Linked DNA regions of Homo sapiens: region 1 is linked to region 2. Evidence: fine-mapped expression QTL. A gene starts in region 2. The other region holds a variant in brackets. All regions are shown on one strand. Distances are between the middles of the regions. Region 1 has its middle 29 kb from the start of KIF26B. Region 2 holds the start of DRC8 (dynein regulatory complex subunit 8).

Region 1 (2,907 bases), 160 kb after region 2:
AGAGGAATGTGATCAGCATGAAAATACAGCTTCGTCTCCCTCTCCCATGACTCCACCCTGCACACTTCGACCAATCAACCATCTCCACACTCCAGTCTCCACTCCCAAACCCTTAAAAACCCCAGCCCCAAACTCCTCAGGGAGATGGATTTGACGTTTCCTCCCATTTCCTCCTTCGGTGGCCCTACGATGAAACCTCTTTCTCTGCTACAACCCTATGCCTCGGCGTATTCACTTTCTGGTCCCATCCAGCGATGGACCCATCGTGGTTACCGTGGCTGGCCAAGCCTGCTGTGCTTCACAGACCCCACTCAGGATCACACCACTTCGTTCCACTGTTTGGAGATGCCATGTTTGCTTATCCCTTCATCAGCTGATGAGCATTTGTGCTGTTTTCACTTTTTGGCTATTACGAAAATGTTGCTACGAGCATCCATGATATTCGCCCATTTAAAAAAGTGTTTTTCACCATTACTGCTGTGGGAAATTTCTCCCTGGCTCTGTCCTTTCTTTGTAGCCCAGCCTTCCCCCAGGTTTTGGCTCTCCCTCTCTGGCTCAATGTCAGCTCCTTGTCTCACCTCCTAGAGCAATTCCACTCTCCCACCTCCTGCTGCGGCATTTCCAAAGCCTCTGCTTAGCAAGGGACCACCCATTCTGCACCTCTCCCCTTAGGGCTGCAAGCACCTGCACAAACTTGGTGGTTATCCTATGCCTCAACTCAATCAAATTCTCTCAGTTTTCCATCAGCAATCTTTTTAAGCCAAAGGGAAGGCAAGGACTTGATCTTCACATCACATGAATCATGACACCTGCCTTAGAAGGCAGAAGCAACTGTAGTTGGAATAGCAATTGTTTTTCAACATATGGGATGATATCAAGGCTCTTTCCTCCCCATATGTCCTGCCCTGTTAGTGGCTGGGGCTGAGGGTTTTCCCAGGAAGCCAGATTGTCCTCACAAGTTCCTCAGGACCCTAGGGCTTCCACAGATAGTAGGACTGTTATCAGAAAGAAGTCTCGATCCAGACGCCGAGAGAGGGTTCTTGGATATCGCCCAAGAAAGAATTCAGGGGGAGTCCATAGAGTGAAGTGAAAGCAAGTTTGTTAAGAAAACAAAGGAGTAAAGAATGGCTACTCCATAGGCAGAGCAGCTCCGAGGGCTGCTGGTTGCCCATTTTTTTTTTTTTTTCTTTGAGATGGAGTCTGGCTCTGTCGCCCAGGCTGGAGTGCGGTGGCACAATCTCGGCTCACTGCAAGCTCCGCCTCCCGGGTTCACGCCATTCTCCTGCCTCAGCCTCCCGAGTAGCTGGGACTACAGGCGCCCGCCACCATGCCCGGCTAATTTTTTGTATTTTTAGTAGAGATGAGGTTTCACATGTTAGCCAGGATGGTCTCGATCTCCTGACCTCGTGATCCACCCGCCTCGGCCTCCCAAAGTGCTGGGATGACAGGCGTGACTCGTGATCCACCCGCCTCGGCCTCCCAAAGTGCTGGGATTACAGGCGTGAGTCACCACGCCGGGCCGGTTGCCCATTTTTATGATTATTTCTTGATTATATGCTAAACAAGGGCTGGATTATTCATGAGGGAAAGGGGTGGGCAATTCCTGGAACGGAGGGTTCCTCCCCCTTTTAGACCGTGTAGGATAACTTCTTGACATTGCCCTGGCATTTGTAAACTGTCATGGCGCAGGTGGGAGTGTCTCTTAGCATGCTAATGC[A/T]TTATAATTAGCATATAATGAGCAGTGAGGTCGACCAGAGGCCACTCTCATCACCATTTTGGGTTTGGTGGGTTTTGGCCACTTCTCTACTGCAACCTGTTTTATCAGTAAGGTCTTTATGACCTGTATCTTGTGGTGACCTCCTGTCTCATCCTGTGACTTAGAATGCCTAACAGGCTGGGGACGCAGCCCAGCAGATCTCAGCCTCATTTTACTCAGCCCCTCATCACTCTGATTCAAATGCCTCTGACATGACCACGCAGATTTGAGAAACAGGCCCTCAGCCAACCAGACTCTGGCTCTACGACACACTTAATACTGTGAAAAGAAGATTACGGGTCATAGTCACAAATACCAGGGGTGCAAAACTTCAGATTAGAAGACACTTGTCAGACTCAGAGGCTCATCCAACTCCACGGAGATCATTATCACCACAAGTTCTTCAGACAGGTGTGGAGGTTTTCTAAGGGATATTTTTATTTTCTGGATTGCAATTTTGTTTAGGAAGAGATGAAAGTGAGGATCAACTACTTTGAGGATTGTACAACTTTGTAAATTGCACAAATATGACGGCATATTTATATCTGCCTGCATTTGTGAAAACAAACTTGTCAAGGAGCTTATTTCTGGAAAGGGTCAATGATTCTAGAAAAAAAAAAAAGATAAATATGAGACCCTTCAGTAAAAAGAAACTTACTCTAGGGAAGTTTTTTGTTTTTTTAAAGAAGCAGTATTCACTCGTGTTTTTAAAAAGGAACATGGATTTCAACAATAATATAATGAGTAAAGCATCTGTTTCATTTATGAAATTAGACCTATTAAAGAACAGAATCATTGAGGGTTAAGGTAGGATGAGAGTGACAGGGAAAGAAAATGGAAGGAAGGCTAGGCACGGTGGCTCACGCCTGTAAGCACAGCACTTTGGGAGGCCGAGGCGGGCAGATCACCTGAGGTCCAGAGTTCGAGACCAGCCTGGCCAACATGTTGAAACCCCATCTCTACTAAAAATACAATATTTAGCTGGGCATGGTGGCAGGTGCCAGTAATCCCAGCTACTCAGAAGGCTGAGGCAGGAGAATCGCTTGAACCCAGGAGGCAGAAGTTGCAGTGAGCCGAGATCACTCCACTGCACTCCAGCCTGGGCAACAAGAGCATACCTCCATCTAGGAAAAAAAAAAAAAAAGAAAAGA
Region 2 (2,907 bases):
GACATTTATTATTGCAAACAGAAAAATTGTACTAGATACCGGGGATATATAAACGAATAATGCCGTTTCTGTCTTCAAGATCTTACTGTTTGGTAGGTGGAAATAAAGTGAACGAACGAAGGCACTGCAAATCAATGTGGGAGGCTCTATAAGCATGGGGCCACAGAGGAAAAGGCTGAGAGGGAAAGCTTCAATGACTAGGTGACTTCAAAAAGGTCATCCTGGCCAGGCACAGTGGCTCACACCTGTAATCCCAGAACTTTGGGAGGGCCAGGCAGGCGGCAGATCGCTTGAGCTCAGGAGTTTGAGAGCAGCCTGGGCAACATGGGGAAACTCTGTCTCTACAAAAAATACAAAAACTAGCCAGACATGGTGGCGCGCGCCGCTCCTCCCAGCTACTTGGGAGGTTGCGGTGGGAGGGTCACTTGAGACCGGGAGGCGGAAGTTGCAGTGAGCAGAGATCACACCACTGCACTCCATCCTGGACGACAGAGCGAGACCCTGTCTCGAAAAACAAAAGACAAAAACAAAAACAAAGGTCATCCTGCAGGACAACCAGGAGGGCACAAATGTGTGTCTGTGGGAAGCTGAAATGTTGGCGGGGGAAAAAAGCAGGGAAAGGCATTCCAGAAAAAGGAAACTGTAAACAGCACACGAAAAAGCATAGTGAATGAATAGGAAGCCTGAGACCAAACTTAGGGTTTCCTACACTTATTTCAAAGCCCTTCATTATCTATATGGAAAGGGGGAGTCTTTAAACACAAATATTTAGATCATATTGACTGAGATTTAGATATAAATGAATGCTAATAATTACTTTTCGTTATTTTGGGGTGTTAAACATTTACTGTACAAGATTGTATTCGTTTTAAGTATCTTCTAACATGAGCCATTTTGTAATGATTCAGTTGTTTATATTCAATTTCAAGTAGAATGCTGATCACAGCGCCAAATGGGTATCTTCTACAGAAAAAGTTATTTTAATAAAGAAAAATATAGTCAGTTTTAGGATTTCCTGAGAGATTATAGAAACAATAAAAGCATTAAAACTGTTAAGTCATTAAATACGAGTACCTTGTATTTTGAAGGCTCTTAAAATTTAGTTTATAAATTGCTTTTACATAACATATGCACTGAAATACCACTTAAGATTAGTTTTGAAAATAGGTGTTCGTTTCAACCACATCATTAGGTATTTTATTCAAAGCTCTTTATAAAAAGAGCTTTACTATGTTCCAGTATAGTAAACTTATCCAGAAAATAAGACAAAAATTTAACTTCATGCTATAGCTGCAAAGTTTTCGGAAAGCGGGATTTAAAACTTCCATTGTAACTTTAACTAGCGGTCATGTCAAATTTCACAACTAAGAACATTTTAACGCATGTAATACTGAGCACAACATGGGCACGTTTTTGTTGCTATGAGAACCTTCTATTTTGTATTAGACATTGCAGCCTTGACGACGCAATGTTTGTGCTATTTTGCGCATGTTTTCCTGCAGCTATTCCTCTCCTCTAGCAATAGTCGAATGGCTCTGGTTTCCTCTTGCGCCCGGCCCAGTTTTTCCGTTTTAGCTTCGGTTGTCATAGGCTGTGCTGTCGCTTTCTCTGGGAAAGGACGGTGAAGACTGGACGGGAGAAACCGGGAGGGCAGGCGCGGCCGTTCTGCAGCAGCCGGGCCGCTTCCCGGCGGGAGGCGGGCTGCGAATGGGAAGCGGGAGGAGGAGGCCGGGCCGCGGGCTGGTTCTATCACCCCCTTGGGAGCCCAGCTCTTCACCTAGCTCTCCGGCGCTTTTCAAAATCTGCAGTTAACAACAAAAATCGAGCAACGCCACGTCGCACAAACAGGACAGGAGGGGGCGAGGGGTGTGTGCGCGCGCGTGCTGTCCCCAAATGGATGAGAAATAAGGGAAAGGAGGGGTTGGGGACCGTGTGATGAAGCAACATGCTAGGCCCGGGACAAGTCCGGCTCCGGCCTCGGGTCTGGAGGGACAAGGCCGGGGGCCGGGTGGCAGACGGGGCCTCTGGTCTTCCCCCAGCGCGAGGGTCGTGGCGCGAAACGGGGACAGGGCGCGCGCTCGGAGCCTCCTCCCCGCCCCGCCCCGCCCAAGGGTCTTCCTCCCCCGGGATTCAGAGCGGCCCCTCCTCCAGGCCAGGCTCGCCGCGGGGCGCTGAGCAGGCCGGGACACCGCGGCCGAGGTTATCGTTAGGCATCTCCCAGGCGACCGGCTCCGCAGCAAGATGGCGGACGAGAAGGACAGGGAAGGTAAGGTAGGGGAGCCGGGGAGCCGCTGCCCTCGCCGCCCGCCGCGACCCCGGGCTGCACGGGGAAGCGCCGGGTGGGGTGGGCCCTCGTCCATCTGGAGTTCCCACCCGCAGGGAAAGGGCGGCCTGAGGAGGGGGCCACCCGGCAGCAGCAGTCGCCCTGCCCCCGTCCCCGTAGCCCGCCCGGCCCGCCGCTCCGCCCCGCCCCGCCCCGCCTCTCTCCCCCGCCCCGCCCCGCCTCTCTCCCCTCTTCCCTCCCTCTTCTCTCTCCCCTCCTCCCGCCTTCTTCTTTCTCCTCCCGCCCTCTTCACCCTCTTCCCCTCCTCCCGCCCCGTCCTCCTTCCCCCTCCCTCGGAGGCCGGGCCTTGCATCCTGCGCGGGCTGCGCCGGAGGCGCCGGCAGGGGGTGCTGATAATGGCGTCGTTGTTCACGGTCGCGGGGAAGCCGCCGCCGCCTCCACACTCTCGCCTGGGGTCTCGGTGCCGCAGGCGCCACGCCCGTAGCTGTCCAGGCTGTGGGCCCCGGGGGGTGGCCTGGGTGAGGAGGAGTTCTGGCCGCCTGAATCTGACGGGATCCTCTGTTTGCGCCGAAACCCCGCGCTGGCGCAGCCTGATGGCGTTCGCGGCCACCATTTTGCCTCCT

The links.
Region 1: its variant is fine-mapped to the expression of DRC8 in whole blood (TOPMed, PIP above 0.99).

The regions. Positions count from the first base shown.
Region 1 is chr1:245,124,756-245,127,662 of GRCh38, forward strand. It overlaps a transcript of DRC8 not described here. Among named protein-coding and RNA genes, the nearest start is that of KIF26B, 29 kb to the right of the region's middle. The variant A/T (reference allele first, on the strand shown) is at 1,718.
Region 2 is chr1:244,968,178-244,971,084 of GRCh38, forward strand. It overlaps DRC8 (dynein regulatory complex subunit 8), which reads left to right and starts at 1,505. Exons shown (of 8, transcript NM_032328.4): 1 at 1,505-1,866; 2 at 2,152-2,266. The coding sequence starts at 2,242. LOC124900416 reads right to left here and starts at 2,393. Exons shown (of 4, transcript XM_054328428.1): 1 at 2,149-2,393; 2 at 2,078-2,147; 3 at 1-2,075. The coding sequence starts at 2,360. The coding sequence ends at 1,809. It overlaps EFCAB2-AS1 (EFCAB2 antisense RNA 1), which reads right to left and starts at 2,692. Exons shown (of 2, transcript NR_111907.1): 1 at 2,635-2,692; 2 at 1-1,802. RefSeq lists enhancers at 1-359, 2,798-2,907 and silencers at 1,568-1,707, 1,978-2,157, 2,168-2,527, 2,538-2,627.